Linked DNA regions of Homo sapiens. The protein of the gene in region 3 purifies or fractionates together with the protein of the main gene of each other region. This does not show direct contact. Each region holds a gene or a part of one and is shown on either strand. Other genes may lie near its edges.

Region 1 (6,984 bases), on a different chromosome or scaffold from region 3:
CTGCTTCGTGTCCACTGCTTATCTAAAATGTTATTCCTGAGGGGCGGGGGTGGGGGCTCATAGCGAATCTCATTCATAAGCGCTGCTTTGTTTTTCTCTCTGTGTTGCTTCCATGACTTCTTTTTAAAAAATTCTTTCTTCCCCTATGCCTTGGGGCTGCTGGCAGTGGTGGTAAATCCTGCTGATGACCCGGGGTTAGATAATTAGTGGTACCTAGATTGCATTCATTTTATCAATGAGACAACTTCTAGGAGTTTCATTTCAGGCCACTTAGGAAAACACATAGCCAGAAGGTGCCACCCTCTGCCATAGCGGTTGCTGCCTCTGTTTGTTCAACATAAGAGACAAGTGAGCTCTTACGCTATTTCCCGTGACTTGCAGAGCCAGGGAGTGCTACCAGAAAAGGAGTCACTGTTAACCACAGAGTGAGGATCCAGCAGGAGCGCCCGCCAATAAAATGTTACATCGGTATCAAATATAAATCAGAAACAGCTTTCCCTAAATTCCTATATTTATTAACTAACACAAATCTGTAAAATCACTGAAGGCAGTTATTGTTCTACTGGTTTTATTGCTCATCAACGGAAAAGTTAAGAAACCAGCTCAGAGTCCTAAAGCAAGTTGCAGCATTGACACAACAGTAGCCTCTTAATCCCTTTCTCTCTCCTGTGGCTGGCCCTGGAAGAGAGGAAGTTTTCAGTCCTATGGCCGTGTCACATGTCAATATCCTGGGATAACTGGTTCCAAAAGATTCTGGCAGGGACTACGGTCATCACATTAATCTAAAGAATGGAAGTAACATGTGGACTGCCTCAGTTCAAACAGACCACAGTTGCTAAACAGAGACCCAAACTGGGCCACGACGCTGCCTTCATTTAGGAGACGAGACAGAATTTAAAGGAAAGCACTGATTGCTGGAAAAGCAACAGAGAATTAAAACAAAATTTGCAATCTCAATTGGAATTTCTGATTTACTCTTGGGGCCACCTGAGAAGCAATGTGTGACACAAATCAACAACAACAGCAAAGAAATGAAGATCAGATAGATTCCTTTCTACTTGCTCTTTCACTTTTCTAAATGATGCCGGAGGATGCTACATCACATGAGACAGAGCAAAGTTGCTGGAGCCACTCTCTCAAGAGGACTCTGGGGCTGGAAACAATTGTGTCTTGTTCCCTGACACAGTCTTGGGAAACAAAGCCCATGGATTAAGTAAACTCACCCAATGATCCCATCCTGGGCAAAAAGAGAATGATTCCAGCATGCAGACCCTCAGTATTCCCATAGCAAGTGACCTCTGCCCATTAAACAAACAATAGCACAGCCTAACACTCGATTGTTTTGAATGTTTCTGAAGCCTTTGCTTCATTCCCAAAACACTAGAAAGTATCACTGCAGAGGATTAAAAGCATTCATTGATTATGGAATGTAGACATTACAATAAAAAGAGACTCTAGAAATTTAATTTTGTGAAGAAATGCAAGATTCTCATTAATTTAATTAGAACATAAATAACATCAAGCATAGCTAATAAAGTTCAACATGATTTGATTTGCATGAGGCTCTATTAATGTAAGAAGTAAAGTGATATTTGCAAACTCTCAGAAAGCTGGACAGTTGGAATGGTTTCCTAAACAGCTATCTATTAGGCTACACAAAACTTGGTTTTTCTTTCCATATGTTACACATCATGAGAATTACACAAATCTATGACAGGGACAAAAGTGTTCCTGGACCACTGGAGGGAAGAGCCTGGGAACTGAGGATTCCAGGAGACCCGTCTTCCTCTTCATATTCTCCTCTTGTCCATCAGTTTAGGAGCCAGGCTAAAGCTGAGGCATCTTAAAATTTCGGAATGGGAAGGAAAAATAACATTAGCTACCCTGGAGGCTGTGGAAATAAATGCATCTGAATGCAAAGGACAGTGACTTGCAGGCTGCCTGAGATCCAATAAAAGCCTCATCAGAAGTAGCTGTCAATCACTCTAACATGTATGGCTGGTTCCAATAATTCTACCAGTCAAGATAATAAAATTTCAGAACACTAAATCAGCTCACAGCAAACCAGTTAAAAATATTTTGTGATCGCCGTGACCACCATGGTGGTCTAATACCCTGGGTTATATGTTTTAATAGAAAACACAAATGAGGCCGGGCGCGGTGGCTCACGCCTGTAATCCCAGCACTTTGGGAGGCCGAGGCGGGCGGATCACGAGGTCAGGAGATCGAGACCATCCCGGCTAAAATGGTGAAACCCCGTCTCTACTAAAAATACAAAAAATTAGCCGGGCGTGGTGGCGGGCGCCTGTAGTCCCAGCTACTCGGGAGGCTGAGGCAGGAGAATGGCGTGAACCCGGGAGGCGGAGCTTGCAGTGAGCCGAGGTCACGCCACTGCACTCCAGCCTGGGCGACAGAGCGAGATTCCGTCTCAAAAAAAAAAAAAAAAAAAAAAAAAGAAAACACAAATGATTCCATTCTTGGAAGAGTCTATCAGTTAGCACTTTGAGAAGACAGTCAGCCCTGAGTGCCCTGCCTCTCTTTCATTTCCTTTCCTAAGTACTGGAACCTCAGTCACAAAAGAAAACCAATATTTAAGTCAACAGACATACATTTAAAATTATTTCGCTGATGTGACTATGAATTTTACTTATAAAACAAGGACGTGCTGAATAGTTCACAGTATTTTTGGTGTGTTCATTTCAAGCATCTTGAACTGCTCTTTTCCTCAGCTTCCGTGTCCCAACACTGCCCAGATTTGCCCTCTCCATCTTCAACTACTTTTTTCCAGTCTCCTTTTTAGACTTGTCTGCCCTCCCCAGTTTCCAATACCTCGATACTCTCTTCTCATCTTCTCCTCCTTTTCTTCTAGGCTGTCTCATCCGTGCCCTCAATTCCCACCTCTCTACAGATGACTCAGCAACTTACCTTTAGTTTATCCTTAGTTCAGACTTCTCCTCCAAGCTCCAGACCCATCTAAAAGCCTTCATGGCCAGGTGCGATGGCTCATGCCTGTAATCACAGCACTTTGAGAGGCCGAGGTGGGCGGATCACTTGAGGTCAGGAAATCATGACCAGCCTGGCCAACATGGTGAAACCCCGCCTCTACTAAAAATACAAAAATTATCTGGGCGTGGTGGTGCATGCCTGTAATCCCAGCTACTCAGGAGGCTGAGGCAGGGGAATTGCTTGAACCCGGGAGGTGGAAGTCTCAATGCGCCAAGATCACCCAACTGCACTCCAGCCTGAGCGACAAGAGCGAAACTCTGTCTCAAATAAATAAATAAATAAAAGCCTATGTGACATTTACCCTTAAGACATTCTAAACACATCTCCAATACATCTAAAGTTGAATTCATTGTAGCCTCTCTACCACATAGTCGCCCTGGAATGCTTCTAATCTCAGTGAATGACATCACCGCCCAATTATGCAAGTCAGAAACCTAGTGATTATCTTGCTTACCTCTCTCTTAGCCTCCGCTTCTAATACATTATCAACTCTTGTCAATTTTATTTCCATCTCTGATAAGCACTACCCACATACAGGCTACCATCATCTCTCATCTGAACCACCACGGTAGGAAGATCTAGGGTACAGTTCAGAGAAAGCAATCAGGCAGGAAAACCAGTAAGTTTTATTGTTTGAGACAGGGCCTCAGTCTGTCACCCAGGCTGGAGTGCACTGGCGCAATCTCAGCTCAATGCAACCTCGACTTCCCAGGCTCAGGTGATTCTCCCACCTCAGTCTCCCAGGTAGCTGGAACCACAGGCAAGTGCCACCACATCGGGTTAATTTTTGTATTTTTTGTAGAGACGGGTTTTCACCATGTTGCCCAGGCTGGTCTCAAACTCCTGGGCTCAAGCAATTCACCCACCTCAGCCTCCCAAAGGGCTGGGGTTATAAGCATGAGCCACCGTGCTGGGCCACCAAGAAGTTTTAAGAAGGCAAATTGACTGGATTAAGAAAATGTGGCACATATACACCATGGAATACTATGCAGTCATAAAAAAGGATGAGTTCATGTCCTTTGTAGGGATGTGGATGAAGCTGGAAACCATCATTCTCAGCAAACTATTGCAAGGAAAAAAAAACAAACACCGCATGTTCTCACTCATAGGTGGGAACTGAACAATGAGAACACTTGGACACAGGAAGGGGAACATTACACACCGGGGCCTGTCATGGGGTGGGGGAAGTGGGGAGGGATAGCATTAGGAGATATACCTAATGTAAATGACGAGTTATTGGGTGCAGCACACCAACATGGCACATGTATATATATGTAACAAACCTGCACCTTGTGCACATGTATATATATGTAACAAACCTGCACCTTGTGCACATGTACCCTAGAACTTAAAGTAAAATAAAAAAAAAAAAAGAGAGAGGAAAAAAAAAAAGAAGGCAAATTGGTGGAAAAGGCATGTGGCTGACAGTGGAGAAAACAGATGAGAGCAAAACTGAAAAGGGTCCACTGGCTTCAGGAATAAAGAGGTTATTTGTGACCACGGAGAGTCATTTCAGTGGAGAAGCGTTTTTAAAAGAACGGTCAAGCCTTGTGCATTTTACCTGTCTGGAAAAAGAAAGGGAAAAGGAAAGCCGGGCCCAGTGGCTCATGCCTGTAATCCCAGCACTTTGGGAGGCCGAGGCAGGTGGATCACGAGGTCAGGAGTTCAAGACCAGCCTGACCAACATGGGAAAACCCGTCTCTACTAAAAATACAAAAATTAGCTGGGCATGGTGGCACATGCCTGTAGTCCCAGCTACTCAGGAGGCTGAGGCAGGAGGCCTGAACCTGAGAGGCGGAGGTTGCAGTGAGCCAAGATCGCAGCATAGCAACAGAGCAACAGAGTAAGACTCCGCCTCACAAAAAAAAAAAAAAAAAGAAAGAAAAAAGAAAGGGAAAAGGAAGCGACTGAAGATAGGAGAATGTGGAAAAAAATTAATGGAGCCAAGGATCCAGAGGAAGCAGAGGGGAATGCCACACAGGGCCCAGGTAGAGGGGGCACCACTGAACAGAAGAAGGGATGAAGGCATGTCTTTTTTGTTAGAGAAAAACAGAGAACATGTGTGTTGACCTCTCATTATTGAATGAATCAGAAGAAAGCATTGTCAGAAATGGAGGTGAAAACTGTTGTTACAAGAGAACAAAGTATTGGGATAGTAATTGATTAAATGAACATTTATTAAGTGCCCAGAAGCTGAGCTCTGGGAAGCCAATGGTAAACCAGAGAGAAGCTATAACGATTCACATGAAAATCCCAACTCTGCAAGGAATGAAATTTCAGCACGAGTGTTAAACTGTCAAGAATGGGAGCAGATTAAGGGGACCATGTGGAAAAAAATCTTCAAGCCCGATGACAAAAGCCTCAAAGATGCAAGCAGGCATCCTTGAGGCTGTAGGTGGTGATGAGAAGCGGGCTTCAGAGAAGGAGGAAATACTGAGTGAAGGTCAGTGGAGCGGGAAAGAGAGGCAGTGAAAATGCCATCCTGCCCAGGGGCCTCAGAGGCCAGATCTGAGGGGACATAGCAGGCTGGTCTCAAAGCCCTGTAATACAGTAATCCTATGACAAACAGGCAAAACAGCAGCCTCTGGAGCTGCATTCCATCCCAGGCCCTTACTGTCTCCCTGCTCCAGGCTCTCTGGGTGGACAGAAGACCTCCCAGGCTGTGTCCATGGGGAATGGCACCATGAGGAACACCCTGCTAGATCCTGCCTTTCCCTGCTCTCGTGGGCTGCAGGGCCGGGACTCGCAGGGAGAATTGCCAGGCTCTGATGGTAATCACCCACATGCTCAAAGTGCACGCAAGATAACTTGAAGAAAAGTCAGGCATTTTCACTCTGAGATCAGCATGCTGATGACACATGGTCTACATCTCCCCTTTTATCTCTAATCCTGACACCACAGTTTCACAACGTATTCAGCATCTGAGGAGCCTAACAGGGGACTGGGATCAAAGTGAGCCAGAAAAAGATTAATCCCGATAAGACAGAGGTTATGATGATAGCCGGGAGAAAATATTTAAAGAATGTGGGGAGCGCTCTTCTGTGTCTCTCGTAGGAACGTGTCTCTCTCCTACTTGCTGGGTCACTTCTGGCATTCCGTTGATCTCAGTGGACGTCCATGACAAGACAAGCCCAACACAAGCAGGCCTATTTATGGTTCCCAAACTCAGAGTCAGTGACAGACTAAATAGGCTCTGACTCTCGCTCTGAAATATCCGGGTGGCTGTGGCTAACCAGGGTCTTCATAAATCATGAGTTTAATTAAGGCAACAGCCAATATCCACTTTTTCTCCCCATAGAAGTTCCCCCACTGCAGTCATCAGCAAAGCAAAAAATGCTGCTTAACTTTCCCCCAGTTTCACTACTCTACAACTGTTATTACAGTATTGTTTTTTTCCCAGCCATTTTAATTAATGTTGTTTTGTGAAATTTCTTCCTGAATCTATTTCTCTGAGAAGTTTAATTTTAGAAAACCAAAGTGTCAAATGATCTAGCATTAATTACCCTATTTTTACACTTTGAAAATAGCAAACTACTAATCAATTTTTGTTTCTTCTTTATAATCAGATAGGTGTAATGATTTTTTTCCAGTAAAGCTTTTTTTGCGATTATTTGGGATACAGTATTACTATAAGCAACAAATATTAGATATTATTGTCCTTCCTTCTTATTTCATTTGAAGTATCCATAGTGGTATTTTCTCCCTACCCTGTCTCCGCCCCTATTTGGTTTGAAATCTTTTCTAACTAGACCTCTTTCAAGAAGGAAACTCTATAAAACTAAATCATCTTTTTCCTGCAAGATAACCTGAACTCTTGAAGAATCCACTTATTTGTATGACAATGTCAAAGTTTTTGCAGCATGCTAAATGTTAGACTGTAGTATTTTAGTAAGTTTCTTGCCAGCTTTTAGAAACAAAATATATTTTACTAATAATGGAAAGAATTCAATAAATTAAGCAATGAAAGGAGCAGAAGCA
Region 2 (7,028 bases), on a different chromosome or scaffold from region 3:
CTAGCTCCTCTCACCAAGACTCAAGTGTCATGGCAGCCTCCCTTATTTCATCATTGAGGCCCTTCCGACAATTATAGGACAAGCAGACACCAGACATGTATTACATTCTTTCTGTCTTCAAAGCACTTTACCAATACCAACTTAAAAAGATATTTAAACATCTCCTTTTGATTGAGCTCTCAAGATTGAGTTCTCCTCATCATTCCCACTAATCTCTATAAATTTTTCCTCTAAAGAGGATCTTGGAATGATTTTGTAAACCAAAAATAAAATTCTAGGCCCCTCAACTGACCGAATGGACCCCTCTGACTGAACGGCCAAGGGCATTCCAAAGTAAACATGAAAAACTAGCTCAGGCTATGATGGGAAGCGGGGGTCAGACGCACCTCATTATACTCTCCTCCCTTTGGAATTCTGGCACAACTGACCAGCATTAATATTAAAACAGAGATCTTAAGACTGACGAAACACTCTTTGTAGCAATAAAATACCAAATTCTAAACTGACTCTAGTATAACATCACACAACAGATAGCAGGCTGTGAAAGAAATAAAGGTATTTTACCCCAAAATATATTTCTTAGACCTATTTTGAAATGGCCCTGCAAAGCTGTCTCTTGTGTGGAACATTCTATAGAAAAAGACCTTTCTGATCTCTTTTTTTTTTTTTTTTTTTGAGATAGGGTCTCACTCTCTTGCCCAGGCTGCAGTGCAGTGGCATGACCACAGCTCACTTCCACTTTGCCCAGGCTCAAGTGATCCTTTCACCTCAGCCTCTCAAGCAGCTGGGACCACAGGTGCATACCATCACACCTGACTAATTTTTTTTTTTAATTTTTAATTTTTTTGTAGAGACAGGCTCTCACTATGTTGCCCAGGCTGGTCTTGAACTGCTGGCCTCAAGCAATCTTCCTGCCTTGGCCTCCCAAAGTGCTAGGATTACAGGTGTGAGCCACTGCACCACCCCAGGTCTTTTTTTGATCCAGGAGAGATTTAACTAAGAGTCTGGCACATTTTACGTTCTGATAAGAGATAATAACCATCTATTCTCTGAAAGCCTGCTACCTGGAGGCTTCGTCTACATATTAAGAACCCTGGTCTCCATGACCCCTTACCTTATCTTAACCCAGACACTCCTTTCTATGGATTCCAGGTCTTTAGATAATAACTTAATTATTTCGACCAACTGCCAATCAGAAAATCTTTGAATGTGGCCACATGTGTGGCTCATGCCTGTAATCCCAGCACTTTGGGAGGCTGAGGTGGGTGATGACTTGAGGCCAGGAGTTCAAGACCACCCTGGGCAATATGGCGAAATCTCATCTCTACTGAAAAAACACAAAAATTAGCTGGGTGTGGTGGCAACATGCCTATAATCCCAGCTACTCAGGAGGCTGAGGCACAAGAATTGCTTGAACCTGGGCGGCGGAGTTTGCAGTGAGCTGAGATTGCACCACTGCACTCCAGTCTGGGTGACAGAATGAGACTCTGTCTCAAAAAAAAAAAAAAAAAAAAAAAAAAGCAAAAATAAGAAAAACAAAAAAGAAAATCTTTGAATCCACCTATGAACTGGAATAGAAGTCCCCGCTTTGAGTTATCCCCTTTCCAGACTGAGCCAATGTACACTTTACATGTATTGATTGTTGTCTGCCTATAACTTCTGTCTCCCTAAAATGTATAACATCAAGCTGTAACCCAACCATGTTGGGCACATGTTCTCAGGACTTCTTGAGACTGTGCTTTGGGCCTTGGTCACACATTATTTATCTCAGAATAAGCCTCTTTAAAGATTTTACAGTTTGACTCTTTTCATTGACAATGAAATGTTTCATTGACAATGTAATGATGTTTCATTGATGAATATACTAACAACTGTTTTAAATTTGACAAAATAACAGTTTCAGCTGTGAGAAATACTATGGCTTAAGCCTCCTTCCTTACCAGAAATTTTCTCTATGGCACTGAATGACACCTGAGTCAGTTGTCCGGGAAATGCTCCCACATAGCACTGTTCATCACTTGCTGCAAGAGGAAGGGAGCACACCCAACCCATAGAGGCATCCTTTTCTCACTGCACTCCTCATTCTTCTGTTCCCTCAGTTGAAGAAGCCTTCTTTAACTTCCTTCACCCCAGATCATTGGCTGGAGAAGACTCTGAGCCCCACAATCCAGAGAAATTCAGACAACTGATTCAAGTTCTGGTTCAGTGACTACATTTTTGAAATATGTGGAATGCCCAGGAGTACCTTCATTAAGCAATATGTATTAGAAGAAAAAGAATTTCAAAAAGTCTCCTACAATTGAACTTGATCCTCCATTGTTTTTTGAAACTCCCTTGGAAGCTTGAATTTTCCTTATTTGGCAAATGACCTGGTTTCCTCCTCATTTACATGTTAAGGATGGAATTTTAAAAAAATTAATTGGTTCATTGTTCTATCACAAGCACCAGTAGAAAAGTGAAGCAAAGCCAGGCTATAAAGAATAGTAGGCTGGCCACAGGGCCGCACTGGCTCACACCTATAGTACCAGCACTTGGGGAGGTCAAGACAGGCAGAACATTGGAGCCCAGGAGTTCGAGACCAGCCTGGCCAACATGGCAAAACTCCATCTCTACAAAAAATACAAAAATTAGCCAGGCATGGTGGTGTGCACCTGTGGTCCCAGTTACTCGGGAGGCTGAGGCAGGAGAATCGCTTGAGCCTGAGAAGTCAAGGCTGCAGTGCTGTGGCCGTGCCACTGCACTCCAGCCAAGCAAGACCCTGTTCCCGTCCCTCCCAAAAAAAGGAACAGCAAATGACTGCTACCATGGTAGTCCCAAAAGGTAGATAGCTCTCTATAGTTTTCTTTTTTTTTTTTTTAAACAACTGGTAATCATTTATTAAAATAGTTGACTTAAGCATCTGCAATGGTGACTTCAACCTCAACTCCTGGCTCAATAATGATGGAAGTAATCTGCTTAACAATCTCAGAAAGACTGTGGAAGTCAATGAGTCACTTATGGATTCTCATCTGGAAACAATACCATGTCTCAGAACCTTCATAAGAAGTTTTTCTTGTAATGTTTCTCAAAGTCTTGGTAGGCATTCAAACTGGTCCTATCACTTTAGATTCTTTTCCTTTGATCCATTGATCAAGTCGGCACACACCTTCTCCAAGGATTTTACCTTGCAGCTCGTTAGAGTGATTCTTTTTATTTATTTATTTTTTTATTATACTTTAAGTTCTAGGGTACATGTGCACAACGTGCAGGTTTGTTACATATGTATACATGTGCTATGTTGGTGTGCTGCACCAATTAAGTCGTCATTTACACTAGGTATATCTCCTAATGCTATCCCTCCCCCCTCCCCCGACTCCATGACAGGCCCCAGTGTGTGGTGTTCCCCACCCTGTGTCCAAGTGTTCTCGTATTTTTTTTTTTTTTTTTTTGAGATGGAGTCTCGCTCTGTCACCAGGCTGGAATGCAGTGGCACGATCTCGGCTCACTGCAACCTCCGCCTCCTGGGTCCAAGTGATTCTTGTGCCTCAGCCTCCCGAGTAGCTGGGATTTCAGGCACGTGCCAACATACTCAGCTAATTTTTGTATTTTTAGTAGAGACAGGGTTTCACCATGTTGGCCAGGCTGGCCTCAAACTCCTGACCTCAGGTGATCCGCCTGCCTCAGCCTCCCAAAGTGCTGGGAGTATAGGTGTGAGCCACCGCGCTGGGCCTAGAGTGATTCTAATTCAGTGAATTGCCACCTCTGGCTTCATGGGCGTTTTTCTGTATCTCCTGACCAACCTGTTTTTTGGTGAGAGCGAGCGGCGGTGAGTCAGGAGCAAGAGCAGGCTTACCACAGCTCCACACCACGTTGTTTATCAAAGAGCTATATTTTTTCTTTAAATCTAAAACATTCAGACAAGTGAACAGTCCCAACTTACGAGTGACTGAATTTTCTGACTATAAAAAAGACAGTATGCTTAAATTTCTGGCAAATGTTTTCTATCTCTTGGCAAGGCTCCCAAATGCCAATCTTAACTCATTTGTCCCCTGAGCCCCCAATTCCATTAATCCAACCAGACCTACCTACCTGTCCCCTTCCAACCTAGACTCTGTCTTCAACCTCATACAACAGTGTCCTGCTCTCCAACTGAAGCTCATTTCTGAACCAAAGACTTGCAAGGATCAAGGCATGACCATTTTTAAAATCTCTGCCTATCAGCTTCTTCCTTTACCCCCAATCTCCACATTTCTTTCATCTTCATCATTGATTCTCCTCTTCCAATTTTCTCTAAACATCTTTGTAAAATGCAAAGTCCTTCAGGTGCTGCTAGGACAATCACAAATGAATTACAACAATGGATAAGGTTACAAGGGAATCCTGTCCACCCTTCCATGGACACAGAGAACTCTTGATGTTCCATTTACTGTCCAGAAACACCAAGGCAATAAGCAACACTCTCTATAACGGCCATATGTAGATCTAGGTCAAGATCTAGATATAAAAAGAACTGTACCACCACAAGGGCTCCAAAATGTCCCTTCATTCTCAATCCTGGCTTCTTGCAAACTTTCAGAAAAGTTGCTGAAATTTATCTACGGATTCAAATTAAAAAAATAATAATAAATAAATAAATAAAAGACTGTGTCTTTCTGGTTGCTCCAATTATACTATGGAAAGGCCTAGTAGTATCAGCTCAACTCCAGCCCCCTACAGTAGGTTTGCCCAACCCCAAGGCCACAGACCAGTACCAGTCTCTGGCCTGTTAGGAATCAGGCCACACAGCAGGAGTGAGCAGCAGGCAAACAAGTGAAGCTTCATCTCTACAGTCAGTCCCCATCGTTAGCATTACCACCTGAGCTCCACCTCCTGTCAGATCAGTGGTGGCATTAGATTCTCATAGGAGCACGAACCCTATTGTGAACTGCGCATGTGAGGGATCTAGGTTGTGTGCTCCTTTTGAGAATTTAATGCCTGATCTGTCACTGTCTCCCACCACTCCTAGATGGGACTGTCTACTTGCAGGAAAACAAGCTCAGGGCTCCCACTGATTCTACATTATGGTGAGTTGTATAATTATTTCATTGTATATTACAATGCAATAATAATAGAAATAAAGTGCACAATAAATATAATGCACTTGAGTCATCCCCAAACCTTCTCCCCTTTAGAATATATCACAAACTAGAAAGTATACATACATCCCCCCGACTGTGGTCCCTGGTCCCGAAAAGTTTGGGGACTGCTGCCCTACAGTTTTCAAGTCATGAGGTGACTAATTGACAAAACATAGCTGCACTGACCTCACCTCGACTGCCAAGAACCACAGGCCTCATCTAGGTCCATCCCAACATCTGGGGTAATCTTGGCTAAACTCTTTCAAATCTCAATTTCCTAATGTTTTCATAGACAGGGTTAATACTGCTGTTTCCTAATAGGAGTATTACACTAAATTAGTAGACATGCAAACAGTTATGAACAGTTTCTGTACATTTATTTCATAATTAGAATACTGTCTTAGACAAAACTTTATTGCTTTTTTATTTCTTCTGTGTTTCCATATTTCATATTAGCATGACAACAAAACTAGGTTCTTCTATTCATTTCTCTTATTTAGGTAAGCATTATCTGATGACGAGGTTGTGGGTTTTTTTTTTTTAATGTAACTGTGTCTAGCAGAAAATCTACTTGTAAATGGGCATTCAAAAGATAGCTGTATGATTGAATTACTGAGCAGAAAATTACCACTTATTTTCTATATAATTTCCTTATAACCAATCTCTCTGGTTATCTATCTTTCAGGCTGAGTTCTCAAGGATAACCTACAGATAAATGATAATCACCGGTTATAAGAGTTTCTAAAATATGCTGTTTTTATGCATGTATCAAGACAGTTTTTGGAAACTGGCAAGTAATAGCAAAGAACTTTTCTACCACTAGTTTCCAGTTAAAAACTGGGCTGTTTCTAGCTATAGCTTTAACCCTAGATTGTTAGTGATGCTAACACTTAATTCCTAACAGTCTTATTTCCCCCAAATAAAATTAAAAACTTAAGACAGAAAGATAAAAACAGGATTTAACTTATATTCCATCACACAGAGAAACTATGAGCTCCTATTTCTTAAGAGTTGTCTTTCAATGTGGAAATTTATCATAGAGCAAAAGAAAAATAAAAACAAAATGTGGTATGCTCACATTTTTGAGAAGTGATGCTAAAAATTTTTTTTTAAAAAGACTCACATATCTATAGAACAATTGTTATTTGTAAGATTAAAAGATGGAATCACAATTTTATACTGTATTACAACCCACAAATATCTCATTTGTTGCCCAGACTTCCCATTTTTGAAGTTGAAAAATACTTTCAACTGGATACCAATCTGAACATGAAAGCAAAAATAATTTTTTAAGACAACTAAGTCCTCCTTGTTTGATTATGCACCACACTGCGGTAATAAAAGTGATTCATAGGACCTACATTCATATGAAAAAAAAAACTATTTATGTTTTCAGTTCTGGGACCTCAAAATGCCAAAATACCAACCTTTAGATATACTTTAGAATATATCACAAACTAGAAAGTATATATACTTTCAGCTGGGCGCGGTGGCTCATGCCTGTAATCCCAGTACTTTGGGAGGCTAAGGTGAGCGGATCACTTGAGGTCAGGAGTTCACCTGGCCAACATGGTGAAACCTCATTTCTACTAGAAATACAAAAATTATTTGGGCATGGTGGCGGGCGCCTGTAATCCCAGCTACTCGGGAGGCTGAGGCAGGAGGATCACTTGAACCCGGGAGGCAGAGGTTGCAGTGAGCTGAGATTGTGCCACTGCACTCCAGCCTGGGCAACAGAGTGAGACTGTGTCTCAAAAAAAAAAAAAAAGAAAGTATACATACTTTCTAGTATGTATTTCATATATAATCAGACCTCCTTAATCAGATTCTGAGGGTGAACCTTAGCATTTGCATTTCTTAAGATGAATTTAAGTTTTTACAAAATATACCAACCCTGCATGCAAATGAAGACAAAAATCTGGATAAACATCA
Region 3 (7,028 bases):
TCTAAAATAAATTTTTTTTAATTAACATCTACAAAATCCTTACAAAATAAACCCAAGTCAGAATTTCTACTTTCTCAAACCAGAATTACTACTATCTCATGGTGAAATGGAAGCTAACAGAGTTTGAACAATTTGTTTCTGGAAGAAACAGAGAGACAAGTTTAAAACTCTTGTCAGGCCCTAAAGCTGATAACTCTTATTCAGATCCATTTCTAACTACCACTATTTCCTCAGCATGACTACAAATCCAGTCATGATCCTCTCTTCAATAAAATCCTTTAATGTACCTACCCCTTCAGAATCAAGTCCAGACTCCTCAACAGGAACACAATCCTTCAGAACTTGGCCCCAAGTGGTATATGGTGAGCATGAGTCACATACATTCAGTCTGCTCTGGCTCTCATCTAAACAGTTCAGCCACCAACCACCCAAGCAGATGCCAGTCAGTCTCAGCGGCTAGTTAACATGCCGAGGCTACAGTGTTAATATTGTAGAATGCAAGGTGAACAGCAGCCCTAGGAACTGTGCAACATAACAAGACTACTGGCCCTGCTTTTCATTCTAGCCTCATCTGTCTCTGATTCTACTTTATTTCCACACACTCATTATCCCCTCTCTCTCTCTTTTTTTTGAGATGGAGTTTCACTCTGTCGCCCAGGCTGGAGTGCAGTGGCGTGATCTCAGCTCACACTGCAACCTCCACCTTCCAGGTTCAAGCGATTCTCCTGCCTCAGCCTCCTGAGTAGCTGGGACTACAGAAGCATGCCACCACACCTGACTAATTTTTGTATTTTTAGTAGAGACGGGGTTTCGCCATGTTGGCCAGGATAGTCTCGGTCTCCTGACCTCGTGATCCACCCGCCTTGGCCTCCCAAAGTGCTGGGATTACAGGCATGAGCCACTGCACCCAGCCTCATCATCCCCTCTCTTAACCTTAGGACCTCGGCTTTTTTCCCTCTGCATGGGACACGGGTTCCTTACTCTGCAGACCTCAACCTAAAAGGCACTTCCTGGAAGAAGCCTTCCCCACTACCACCAACACTACTGCCCCACTTCAGGTTAGAAGCTCCTGCTGTGTCCTCCCATAGTGCCCCAGAGTTCCCCCATCAGCATTCTCAGTGCTACTGAGTACAAGGACCATGTTATCTTGCTCACTAATTCCCAGGGCCTGGCACCTAGAAAGTGGTTAATGTATGTGGAATGAAGAACAGCCCAGAAGGAACACAGAGAAGCAGCTGTAACTGATCCACAACAAAAGGTTATTCTCCTAACTCAGGTCTCACATTCCACCACCTTTAAAGTGAGCTCGCTGGGCACAGTGGCTCATACCTGTAACCCCACCACTTTGGGAGGCCAGGGTGGAGGAATCACCTGAGGTCAGGAGATGGAGACCATCCTGGCCAACATGGTGAAACCTTGTCTCTAAAAATACAAAAATTAGCTGGGCGTGGTGGCGTGTGCCTATAATCCCAGCTACTCAGGAGGCTGAGGCAGGAGAATGGCTTGAACCCAGGAGGTGTATGTAGGTTGCAGTGAGCCGAGATTGCACCACTGCACTCCAGCCTGGAGACGAGCGAGACTCCATCTCAAAAAATAAAAAAAATAAAAAATAAAAAGTGAGTTCTGTGGGAAATGTTAACAGCTGTTGAATCTAAGCATCACAGATACAATGATCATTCTCTATTCTTCTAATTTTTTTTGTTTATTTTGGTGACAGTCTTGCTCTGTTGCCCAGGCTGGAGTGCAGTGGTGTGATCTCAGCTCACTGCAACCTCCGCCTCCTGGGTTCAAGCCATTCTCCTGACTCAGCAACCTGAGTAGCTGGGATTACAGGCTGCAGTGCAATGGCGTGGTCTCAGCTCACTGCAACCTCCACCTCCCAGGTTCAAGTGACTCTCCCACCTCAGCCTCCCAAGTAGCTGGGACTACAGGTTAACACTAATACTAATAAAAATACTAATTTTTGTATTTTTAGTGGAGACAGGGTTTCATAATGTTGGCCAGGCTGGTCTCAAACTGCTAACCTCAAGTAATCTGCCCACCTCGGCCTCCCAAAGTGCTGGGATTACAGGCGTGAGCCACCATGCCTGGCCTTCTAATGTTTTTTAAGTTTGAAAATTTTCATAATAAACCTTTGAGGAAAAAAATAATGTGACCTTTGCCTCTATTTCTAATCCTGATTTCCTCGCTAGGTACTTAGCTACAGGATACCCAGCAACAACCTGTCATAATTTCCCACCATCTGATGGCAGTGCCGTAGGACATAGAGAGAGTACAAACCCACTGTCAATATAAGAAAGCAATAGCCGGGCATGGTGACTCACGCCTGTAATCCCAGCACTTTGGGAGGCCGAGACAGGCGGATCACGAGGTCAGGGGTTCGAGACCATCCTGACCAACATGGTGAAACCCCGTCTCTACTAAAAATACAAAAGTTAGCTGGGTGTGGTGGCATGCGCCTGTAGTCCCAGCTACGCGGGAGGCTGAGGCAGAAGAATAGCTTGAACCTGGGAGGCAGAGGTTGCAGTGAGCCGAGATCGCGCCACTGCACTCCAGCCTGGGCGACAGAGTGAGACTCTGTCTCAAAAAAAAAAAATTAAAAAAAAAAAAGAAAGCACTAAAAAACTCTTAGGTCAGGTAACAAAAAGGCCTGCCAACAGCCAGATACTAGGTTCCAACAAAATGCTGGGCTTTCATCAGTTTCCTTCTCGTTATAGCCTTTTCTTTCTTTCTTTTTTTTTTTTTTGAGACAAGAGTCTCACTCTGCTGCCCAGGGGGGAGTGCAATGGTGTGATTCTCTTGCCTCAGCCTCCCGAGTAGGTGGGATTACAGGCACCCACCACCACACCCATCTAATTTTTATATATTTAGTAGAGACGGGGTTTCACCATGTTGGCAAAGCTGGTCTCGAACTCCTGACCTCAGGTGATCTGCCCACCTCGGCCTCCCAAAGTGCTGGGCTTACAGGTGTTAGCCACCACACCTGGCCAATTATAGCCTTTTCTATAGGCGAGGAGAACTGTTCTTCAGGTCTGAGAAGAAGAAGAAGAAAAAGAAGCTGAAAAGTGTGTGCAAGTTGCAGAAGAGAGCACAGCACTGATGGATTAAAAGTCAGGGGAGGCTGAGTTACGTAAATTCAGCTTGCTCTGGTGCTGGTCTAGCAGCCAAATCACCAATCAACCAAACATGCTCAATTTTAGTGGCTATCTAATAGGCACAAGAGAGAACATGATTATCACTAAAGAAAAAGCCCCTGTTCAAGACAGCTATTCCCAAAAGACTGTGCACTCCTAAATAGTCCCTTTAGAAAAAAACACTGACAAGGACATTAACTTTCAAAGTTCAACAGATGAAGAACCCCTCACTTTCTATCTCCTTTGTTCCCTCCTGTACAACATTCCTGAGGCAAAGAACTGTGATGTCAGTGTAGCTGACCTAGGCTCTGACACTTGCCATTACCTCTTGCTGCTTCTCCTCATTGGGGTAGGTGTCTACAAATACTCCCAGCCCCACAAATTTGTCCATGTTTCCAAACACAGGCCCTAGAGAGAGAGAACAGATGATGAACAATGAAATAAAGCTAAGAGTTGATAAAGGAATAATATATCACTATGATGGAGGAAAAAGTAAAATTCAAATGACTCCCAAGCCTCTCTCAAGATGAGAAAACACATGTTTAAAAGTACCCAGCAAAGTGCATGGCCTGTAACAAGTGCCCAGTAAATATCTGTAATTGTTTGTTGTTGGAGGCAAGGGAAAGAGAGAAGGCCACTGCAACCTTATTTAGCACTCAGGCAGCTTCCTGATCCAAACTGGTTGCTAAGGTGCCCCTACAGAATTCTGCTTTACAAACAATTGGTAAAGACTATGCCCCCAAGAGAGAACTGAATTCCCTAGTTCTCCTTCTTGTTGCAAAAGAGATCAGGTCAAATCAGGTTGAGCCTGCCATCTACATGGAGCAATAATAGCTCTAACACAAGGAAAATAGATAACTCTTCTCTTGACTCAGCAGTGCTGAGATCATTCACTGTAAATGTTCAGAAGAAATCAGCTCACCCAATCGTCAGCGTTCAGGAGAGCCAGTGCTTTCATCCAGCCAACAGGCCAGGTAGTTTCACAAGGAAACTCAGAAAGAAGTAACAAGCAAGCAACTGCCTCAGGATGAGTCAAATTCAGCTGCTTATGAGGACTCAGACCCGTTCTAGAGACTAGAAGGGCCAGTGTTCATCCACATACATTAAGGGAGAGGGAAAACAGCTGGCACTGTGGGGAAGGAACCTTTTCAAAAAGAGGGCACATGAAAAATCAGGCTGTCACACCCACACAAGAGTAACACAGGCTCCCAATACCTGGCTGCATCCGATCCTTTGTGTACCAGATTGCCAAGCCATCCCCATGCAGATTCTTCTTTCCTTGTCCATGGATTTTGAAGTGCACCTGCAACTCCCAGTCTCTCAGGAAACATGGCTAAAGTGAGAAAGACATTAGAATCAATGAGGAGCATGAAATGCAAAACCCCTCAAGCCCACATCAGCAATCAACAGACTTGGAAAACACAAATGCAGGTAACACTAGACTAAGGGTTAAAACTTAAATCTAAGACTTGCTATGTGTTCATGTCATAAAATTAAACGGATTGAACCATTCAACTGTTTAGAGATTTAATATGAAAATGAATAAACCTCCCGATTATCTTCAACATTTCCCAACAGAAACAGGACAGAACTCCAAAGTTGGAAAAGACAAGAGTGTACCAAACTCCACTCCTGTGATCCTACACCCACCCAGCAAAGTAGCTCGGCTTTTAGAGTACAGATGGCTGAATTCATACTCATTTACAACTCAAGATCACCCCTCAGACAGAAAGACTCTGAAAAGCTGGATTTAAAGAAAGGTCAAAGCCTAATTTATTACAGTAGAAAAAGAAAAGCTAAGCTGTTATGCAAACGTTTCCAGGAATAATTAGCAGATACTACAAACAACTCTAATTAGCTAGACCTGGCCCTCTGCCAAGCTGAGGGGTAAGCCAGAATTCTCACAAGAAGAGCAAGTTACAGTCCCCAAACCCTCCCGTCCATGGCCAAGAAGCTTAAATGCACTTGAAGATGGATGCAAGTGGATGGTTAAGTGTTTTAAATAGTTGAACGGTTTCAAGAAAAAACCAGAGTGGGTAGTTGATTTAGGGAAGCTTCTGGTTAAAAGTCTACTGTGAAGAAAGAAGTGAAGGAAGAACAGACAGACCAGCTGGGTTCAGCCAAAGGCTCTCCAAATAGACTGTTCTGGGCAACTATTGCTAGATCATTTTCAGTTTTCATTCTTTATTTCTGGGATATTTTCCAACAGTGTTCATATTAGAAGTACACAGTCAAAATGAAAGGGGATTGGGTACTCCTGCATTGAGCAAGGGGCCTGAAATCTCCTACTCTATTGAGCCAGTCTCTGTCTTGTCACTCTGGATTCTTATCTCTCTGCTGTTTCATTACGATTTCAGAGAAACGGCCCAGCGCGGTGGCTCACGCCTGTAATCCCAGCACTTTGGGAGGCTGAGGTGGGCAGATCACAAGGTCAGGAGATCGAGACCATCCTGGCTAACACGGTGAAACCCCGTCTCTACTAAAAAATACAAAAAATTAGCCGGTGTGGTGGTGGGCGCCTGGAGTCCTAGCTACTCAGGAGGCTGAGGCAGGAGAATGGCGTGAACCCAGGAGGCAGAGCTTGCAGTGAGCTGAGATCATGCCACTACACTCCAGCCTGGGCGACAGAGCGAGACTCCATCTCAAAAAAAAAAAAAAAGATTTCAGAGAAAGGCCAGGCACAGTAGTTCACGCCAGTAATCAAAGCATTTTGAGAGGCTTTGGTGGAGGATCATTTGAGCCCAGGAGGTCCAGGCTGCAGTGAGCTGTGATAGTGCCACTGCACTCCAGCCTAGGCGACAGAGTGATGAGACCCTGTTTCAAAAAAATAGCTTTCAGAGAAAGAGTGAAATTCAGTGGGGCAGGAAGCTGCCAGGAGGTAGGTATTATGCCCCTGGGAAGAGGGCAGAGTCACAGAAGTTCCCAGTGAGCCAAGAGGTGTCTGTCACTGATTCCTGGCCTCCTACAGCACAATGCTATACTGTTTTGCTCAGGACCATGTCTAATTGTGGTTCTGAAATTCTGCCACACACTGGATTCACCTACGGAGTTTTAAAAAATCCCAATGGCCAAGCTGCACCCTATTCCAATTAGATCAGAATCTCTGGGGATGAGACCCAGGCATTGATTCCAATGGATAGCCAAATTTGAGAACCACTGCTGAAACAAATGCATCCTATTCAAATAACTCAGAAACAAGCCCATAGTCATGGTGATAGCCAGATAACAGCGAATACAGGTATCAGAAGTCGAAAAAGGGAAGAACTAGAGGCTATACTAGAACTGCTGCTACAAGTTATGTAGAGACAGACAGCCAGCAAGACAGCAGCAGAGTATCAAGCCTTGAACATAATCATCCGGTAACCCACAAGAGCCCCATCAACAAACCTGTAGAAGTGTAATAACATAACACATATTTCTATAACCATTTTAACTTGCCACAGTCTTTTCATGTCTATTGTCCTATTTTATTCTCACGACAACCCCAGTGGGCAAGTAAAACAGGTATTCTGAAGCTCATTTATCAGATAGAGAAACAGAACTAAGAAGTTAAATAATCTGCCTAGGGCTCACAGGAGGACTGTGACAGAGCTGGACCGAGAATCCCAGTCTTTCAACTGTCCTTTATCTCTGCTACGAAAACACAATGCTCTGTACTCTGTCCAAAAATGAGCTCGGCACTATGATCTAGGTTAAGGGGCCAGTTTGTGCAGATAGCTAATGTAGAAATTTCTCTTGCCCTCCTGAACAGGGAAAAGAAATCGTTCTCTTTTCTGAGATTCGCTTATCTACAACTAATGAGAAAAGCCACGTAAAAAAGTAAGTTCTTAGTTTAAGAGAATTCCAGAGAAAGTATCAAAGGATGCCAGAGTCATGCCCAAAAGTAAACTGGTC
Region 4 (7,028 bases), on a different chromosome or scaffold from region 3:
GAGTTCTATCTATTATATGTTTTCAACATAATTATAAATAAATTCCAGTTTAGAACATGAGCCAACCCAAAATATAGAATATATCTAAATCCTTGAGATAGCTGAGATTCCCAAATAGAGATATAAAGTAGGCTGTTGGATACAGATAGGAATCTGGAGTTGAGAGAAGTCTATCTTGGCGAAATAAAACTTGGGAGTATTTAACATATTCATGGTTTTGAAAACTGTGAGATTAAATAAAACCTTTCAGGGAGAGAGAAGGAGGGGAAAGAAAAGGGTCTAGAGGAAGCTATAAGGAGTCCCAAATAAGAGGGGAAACAGCATGGGAAACTGAGAAAGAATGGCCAAGGGAGGAAGATGTGAGGAGACCGAGTGCCATGACAGCTGAGAGAAGGCAGTGTGCCAAGAAAGAGGTAACATCTGCTGTGTTGAGAATGCACCTGAAATGAGGCCAGAAAATGCACATTGGAATTGGCAGTATGGAGACAGCTGGTGACCCTGACAAGAGCACTTTCGATGCGTGGTAAAGATGAACAGCTAAACTGGAAAGGGGAAGGAATGGGAGGCAGGAAAGTGAGGCAGCAGGGGGAAAAAAGAAAAGCTCTTCTGAGAAGTTATTTTGCAAAGCAAAACAGAAAAACGGGAGGGATGTTAGAGAATGGTGTGTTAGCTGGAAGAAAATGTGGGATTAAAGTCAGTTCTTTTTTTAAGATGGGGAAAATTATGCATGTCTTATGTCAAAATAAATTACCACTTCTAGCAAGAGTAATCATTGAATGCTAAGCAAATAACTACTGATTTCCTCAATGATGAGCTAGAAAGGCGAAGACAAAAGTGCATAGTGGCCAGGCACAGTGGCTCATGCCTGTAATCCCAGCTCTTTGGGAGGCTGAGGCAGGCAGATCACCTGAGGTCAGGAGTTCAAAGCCAGTCAGGCCAACATGGTGAAACCTTGTCTCTACTAAAAATACAAAAATTAGCTAGGCGTGGTGGCAGGTGCCTGTGATCCCAGCTACTCGGGAGGCTGAGGCAAGAGAATCACTTGAATCCGGGAAGCAGAGGTTGCAGTGAGCTGAGATGGCGCCACTGCACTCCAGCATGAGTGACAGAGCAAGACTCCATCTCAAAAAAAAAAAAAAAAAAAAAAGTGCATAGCCCTCCCTCATGAGAATTTCTTTAAGCCCTTAAATTCAAATTCTCAGAAATTTATCCTCACAAATTCCAAATGTATATATGTCTTATGGTTACAATCTTTTGAACATGGGGAGATAACAATTTGTGGCCACTGCCTAGAATCTAGACAACCCAGGCTTATCTGGTTGGGGGATGGAGCAGAAGGTCACAAGGTAGAACTGTCTTAAAGGTGCTATATAATTCACATATTGGGATTTGGACTCCAAGTCCTGCAGGCTAGGTTCAAATTGGTGTAACTACCACTGCAAATGACTACTGCAGCATATCAATAACTAATGTGTCAGATTAAAATCGATGTTAGTGATTTCTTGACTCATCTCTATGACTAGTACAGGGACATTATCTGTATCAAAAGCAGGCTGGAAAGCAGGACTCTTTGAAATATAGTGGCAGAGATAACCAGAAAGGGAGGGGGCGACTGCCGTCATGTGGGAAAGTTCCCAACGATTCCATCAGTGAAAGGTGATCTATGTTAAGATTGCTGTCTGAGATATATATAAGGCAGTGAGCGGTATGCAAATATTCAGTGAATGAAATGAAATGAATCTCTAATCCAGAGATTTGTTCAATTTAAAAAAGAAGACAAATTTATGCTCAAAATTCAACAGTGTATTTTTGCAAAGCTTAATAAACTGGATTAAGCATATCAATTGCAAAATTTGGTTCCTAGGAAATATTTAAATTATGATATACATATTCTCAATATCAGAAATATCAATAATACTCTAAACGAAGACCAAAATGTTATTAGAGAAAATATTTAAAAATTTTCTAGAAGTTTTGGTTTTTGACTTCATGTAGTTTTTACACACTAACAAATCATTTAAAAACTAGGCTACTACTAGTACTGCTGATAATGGTATCAATGGGAGACGGTCAGTAGAATATTTCATTCTGAACTGAAAGGCATCTTAACACAGCTGGCTGATGAAAAAGAGAGAAAGTAAGTTTTCCATAGTATGTTAATGTGGTTTACAATGGATAGCCAGTTATAAGTGAAAACACAGTTCTGTCAAATTTAGTTGGCAGAGAAAATCTTGAAAAATGGCTTTTGTTATAACTTCTATAACTTACTAATAGCCCATTTCAATTTTCTCAAGGCCATTCCTATGGTTCAAACAAATTAAGCACTCTAAAATTGGGCATTTAAGAAATAAAAATGACCCATTAATTGGCTTTCTGCAAAAGTTACAGAAATGGTACCAACTGCCTTTAGTTGCTGCATTCTGCTCTTGTTAATTAATTCTCATGGGTCCACACATTTTTCCCCCTTGGGGTGGGTAAGTCTTTTTGTAGATACAATTTTGTGATTTTGATTGCTCCTTCTGAACCATGGCTTGTACTCGGTTCCTTATCATTATGGGCCATGCAGAATCAGAGAAGTTTAGGTTTGAATTAATCATCCTAATAAAAGAATGTAACAGCAACTTTAATTTGCCATGTCAGCATGGCAAGACTGCTTATAGTGTTCTTCCCAGATCTGTCCATCAGACTGAATGAGATTCTCACTAGACTCTCTAGTAAACACTCCTGTACCTACTCTCCCCTGCCACTCCTGAAACCTCAGCAAAACTAAAACTGATACAGGTGCAGTGGCAGGGAGTAGAGGTAGGAGTAGGAGTGGGGATGCAGAAGATGCCTCTGTCCTTTAAGACCCAGGCAGAGATGCTTCTTTTCTATTATTTATTTAATTTTAAATTTTTATTTATTTTTTTTGAGACAGAGACTCACCCTGTCACCAAGGCTGGAGTCCAGTGGCACAATCTCGGTTCACTGCAACCTCTGTATTCTAGGTTTAAGCGATTCTCCTGACTCAGCCTCCCGAGTAGCTGGGCAGGTGCCCACCACCATGCCTGGCTAATTTTTGTATTCTTAGTAGAGATGGGGTTTCACCATGTTGGCCAGGCTGGTCTCGAACTTCTGACCTCAGGTGATCTGCTCGCCGTGGCTTCCCAAAGTGCTGGTATTACAGGTGTGAACCACCGTGCCTAGCCTGTTTTCTGTTCTTTTAAAAATGGGTTTATTAAGATATAATTAACACACTAAACAACTCATCCATTTAAAGTGTACAATTCAATGGTTTTTAGTGTATTCAGAAAGCTGTGCAACCATTACCATAGTCGATTTTAGAATGTTCTCATCATCCCCAAAAGACATTCTGCACTCTTTAGCCATTACTCTCTATTTTCCTGAAGCCTAGGCAACCACTAACCTACTTTCCGGCTCTATGTTTGCTTTTTCTGGACATTTCATATGAATGGAATCATACAATATGTGGTCCTTTTTGACTAGCTTCTTTCATTTAGCATAATCTTTTTAAGTTTCATCTATATTGTAGCATATACCATATTTTTTATTGTTGAATAATATTACCAAATTTTATTTATCCATTTATCAATTGATGGGCATTTGGGTTGTTTATACTGTTTGGCCATTATGTATAATGAACATTATAATGCTATGAACATTCATGTAGAAGTTTTTGTGTAGACTTATATTTTCATTTCCCTTGAATATACACCTAGGAGTAAAACTGCTGGATTATACAGCAACTCTATGGTTAACCATTCGAGAAACTGCCAAACTGATTTCCAATGGCTGCGTGATCCTACCAGCAGGGTATGGGTTGCAATTCCTCCACATTGTTGCCATCTCTAGTTATTGTCTTTTTCATTATAACCATCCCAGTGGGTATAACTGGTGTCTCACTGTGGTTTTGATTTACATTTCCCGAATGATTAATGATGTTGAGCATCTTTTCATGTATTTATTTGTCATCTGCGTATCTTCTATGAAGAAATGTCTATTAAGATCTTTTGGCCGGGCATGGTGGTTCATGCCGGTAATCCCAGCACTTTGGGAGGCCTAGGCGGGTATATCCCAAGGTCAGGAGATCGAGACCATCCTGGCTAATACGGTGAAACCCCATCTCTACTAAAAATAAAAATTAAAAAATTATCTGGGTGTGGTGGCGGGCACCTGTAGTCCCAGCTACTCAGGAGACTGAGGCAGGAGAATGGCTTGAACCTGGGAGGCAGAAGTTGCAGTAAGCCGAGATTGCGCCACTGCACTCCGGCCTGGGTGACAGAGCGAGACTCCATTTCAAAAAAAAAAAAAAAAAAAAGATCTTTTGCCCATCTTTTAATTGCCTAATCCACAATCACAAAGACTTACACCTATGTTTTCTTGTAAGAGTTTTTTAGTTTTACATTTGATTAATCAATCAATTTACTTAAAGTTTTTTTTTGTGTGTTTGTGTATGGTGCAAGGCAGGGTCCAACTTCATTCATATTTTTTTTTTCCAGCACCATTTGTTTAAAAGATCATTCTTTCCCTATTAAATGGTCTTGGCACCCTTGTTAAAAAATCAATTTACTATAAATATGAGAGTTTATTTCTGGACTTTAGATCCTATTCCATTGATCTGTATGTCACCTATCCTTAAGCCAATAACATACTACATTGATTGGTGTAGTTAAGATATAAGCTTTAAAATTGGGAGGTGTATGTCTTTCAACTTTGTTCTTTTTATTTCAAGATTTATTTTTGGCTATTCTGGGTCCCTTGAATTACCATATGAATTTTAGGATGGGTTTTTCCATCTCTGCAGAAAAAAAAAAAGGTTCTAGGGATTTTGACAGGCATTGAATTGAATCTGTAGATCATTTTGGTGAGTACTGCTATATTAACAATATTAAATCTTCTGATCCATGAAAAGGGGATGTCTGTTCATTTATTTAAATGTTCTTTTATTTCTTTCAACAATGTTTTGTAGTTTTCGGAGTATAAGAACTATATTTCCTTGATTAGATTTATTTTAAGTATTTCATCCATTCTGATGTTACTTTAAATGGAACTGTTTTCTTAATTTGACTATAAGTGTGTTAATCAATTAAGTATATAAAATACAATTTATTTTTGTACACTGATCTGGTATACAGCCTTACTAATTTATTAGTTCAATAGTTTTGTAGTGGAGCCGTAGAATCCTACATACAAGATTACTGCAAGTATAGATACTTTTACTTCTTCCTTTCCAATGTGAATGCCTTTTATTTAATCTTTTTTCTAATTCTGTGGCTAGAACCCCCAGTACAATGCTGTATAGCAGTGGTGAGAACACACATCCTTGTCTTCTTCCTGATCTTAGTCAGAAAACTGATTTTTTTTTTCTTTTAACCATTCAGTGTAAAGTTCTGGCTTTTTTTGTAGATGCCTTTTAGTTCCCTTCTATTTCTAGCCAGTTGAATGCATAAGGATTGTCAAATCTTCTCAAATGCTTTTTCTGCATCTATTGAGATGATCACATGGGTTTTGTCCTTTATTCAGTCAACATGATGTATTACATTAATTGATTTTCAGATATTAAACTCACTGTACATTTTGGGGACAAATTCCACTTGGTAATGGTGAATAATCCTTCTTACATACTAATGAATTTGGTTTCCTAGTACATTTGTCCCTTGGTATCTGCAGGGGATTGTTTCCAGGACCTCCCAAGGATACCAAATCTTTGCGGGCTCAAGTCCCACAGTCAGCCCTGTGGAACCCATGGATAGGAAAAGTCAAGTTCTGTGAGTTCCACATCCCATAAATACCATATATTTTTATCTGAGATTGGTGGAATCTGCGGATTCAGAACCTGTGAATATGGAGGGCCAAATCCATTTTGTTGAGGATCTTTGCTCTTATATTCCTAAGGGATACTGGTCTGTGGGTTTCTTTCCTTGTGATGTATTCGTGGCTTTGGAATCAGGCATGAACTGTTTTTTTGTTTTTGTTTTTTGAGATGGAGTCTTGCTCTTTTGTCCATGCTGGAGTGCAATGGCACGTCTCGGCTCACTGCAACCTCTGCCTCCTGGGTTCAAGCAATTCTCCCTGCCTCAGCCTCCCGAGTAGCTGGGATTACAGGTGCCTGCCACCACGCCTGGCTAATTTTTGTATTTTTAGTAGAGACAGGGTTTCGCCATGTTGGCCAGGCTGGTCTCGAACTCCTGATCTCAGGTGATCCACCCACCTCGGTCTCCCAAAGTGCTGGGATTACAGGTGTGAGCCACCGCGCCCGGCCAAACTGGTCTTATAGTTTGGAAGTGTTCTCTCCTAATTTTTGGAAGAGTAGATGAAGAATTAGTATTAATTATTCTTTAAGTATTTGGTAGAATTTATCAGTGAAACCGTTTGGGTCTGTGCTTCTCTTTGTTGGTAGTTTTAAAATTACCAGTTTACCCTCTTTACTTCTTATAGGTCTATTCAGATTGCCTATTTCTTCTTGAGTCAGTTTCAGTAGTTTCTGCCTTCCTAGCAATTTGTCCATTTCATTTATCTAATTTGATGACATACAGTTGTTGTATGTAAGTATTCCCTTGTAATTCTTTTATTTCTTAAGATAATGTAACCATTCTCTTTCATGATTTTAGTCATCTAGCTCTTTTGTCTTTTTTCTTGTTCAGTATAGCTAAGGTTTGTCAATTTTGCTGATTTTGTCTAAGAACCAATTTTTGGTCTCATTGATTTTCTCTACTATTTTTCCATCCTCTGTTTCTTTAATTTCTGCCCTAATCCTTATTATTTCCTCCATTCTGCTTGCTTTGCAGAAGCTTGTTTGGTCTTCTCAGCTTGTCTCTCCTGGTATGGAACCTCTGTCCTACTAGAGAGCTAGGGCCAGGGCAATTAGGGCCCTAGGATTCTCAACTTTCCGCACTTGGCATAAAGCCTCTGTCCTGTAAGTGGGGGCTGACTGAAGTAAGGGAGCCCTCAACTTCTCAGCTGCATTCATTAGGAATTTAACCTCTCCAACTTGGATTAGGAGAAGATGAGAAATCTCACAGCCTGTC

Evidence for each region.
Region 1: the proteins of LMAN2L (region 3) and TENM3 purify together in Homo sapiens (co-immunoprecipitation; 3 studies listed by BioGRID and IntAct, with this or other methods). This does not show direct contact.
Region 2: the proteins of LMAN2L (region 3) and LNPEP purify together in Homo sapiens (co-immunoprecipitation; 3 studies listed by BioGRID and IntAct, with this or other methods). This does not show direct contact.
Region 4: the proteins of LMAN2L (region 3) and ARSK purify together in Homo sapiens (affinity purification with mass spectrometry; 2 studies listed by BioGRID and IntAct, with this or other methods). This does not show direct contact.

Annotation. Positions count from the first base shown.
Region 1 is NC_000004.12:182,239,418-182,246,401, reverse strand, and holds the start of TENM3 (teneurin-3), read right to left. Parts: upstream 3,001-6,984; 5' UTR 2,926-3,000; intron 1-2,925.
Region 2 is NC_000005.10:96,939,053-96,946,080, reverse strand, and holds part of LNPEP (leucyl-cystinyl aminopeptidase), read right to left. Parts: intron 1-7,028. UniProt on the Homo sapiens protein: Release of an N-terminal amino acid, cleaves before cysteine, leucine as well as other amino acids. Degrades peptide hormones such as oxytocin, vasopressin and angiotensin III, and plays a role in maintaining homeostasis during pregnancy.
Region 3 is NC_000002.12:96,730,060-96,737,087, forward strand, and holds part of LMAN2L (VIP36-like protein isoform 2 precursor), read right to left. Parts: intron 4,468-7,028; coding exon 4,350-4,467; intron 3,543-4,349; coding exon 3,460-3,542; intron 1-3,459. UniProt on the Homo sapiens protein: May be involved in the regulation of export from the endoplasmic reticulum of a subset of glycoproteins. May function as a regulator of ERGIC-53.
Region 4 is NC_000005.10:95,558,093-95,565,120, reverse strand, and holds part of ARSK (arylsulfatase K precursor), read right to left. Parts: intron 1-7,028. UniProt on the Homo sapiens protein: Catalyzes the hydrolysis of pseudosubstrates such as p-nitrocatechol sulfate and p-nitrophenyl sulfate. Catalyzes the hydrolysis of the 2-sulfate groups of the 2-O-sulfo-D-glucuronate residues of chondroitin sulfate, heparin and heparitin sulfate.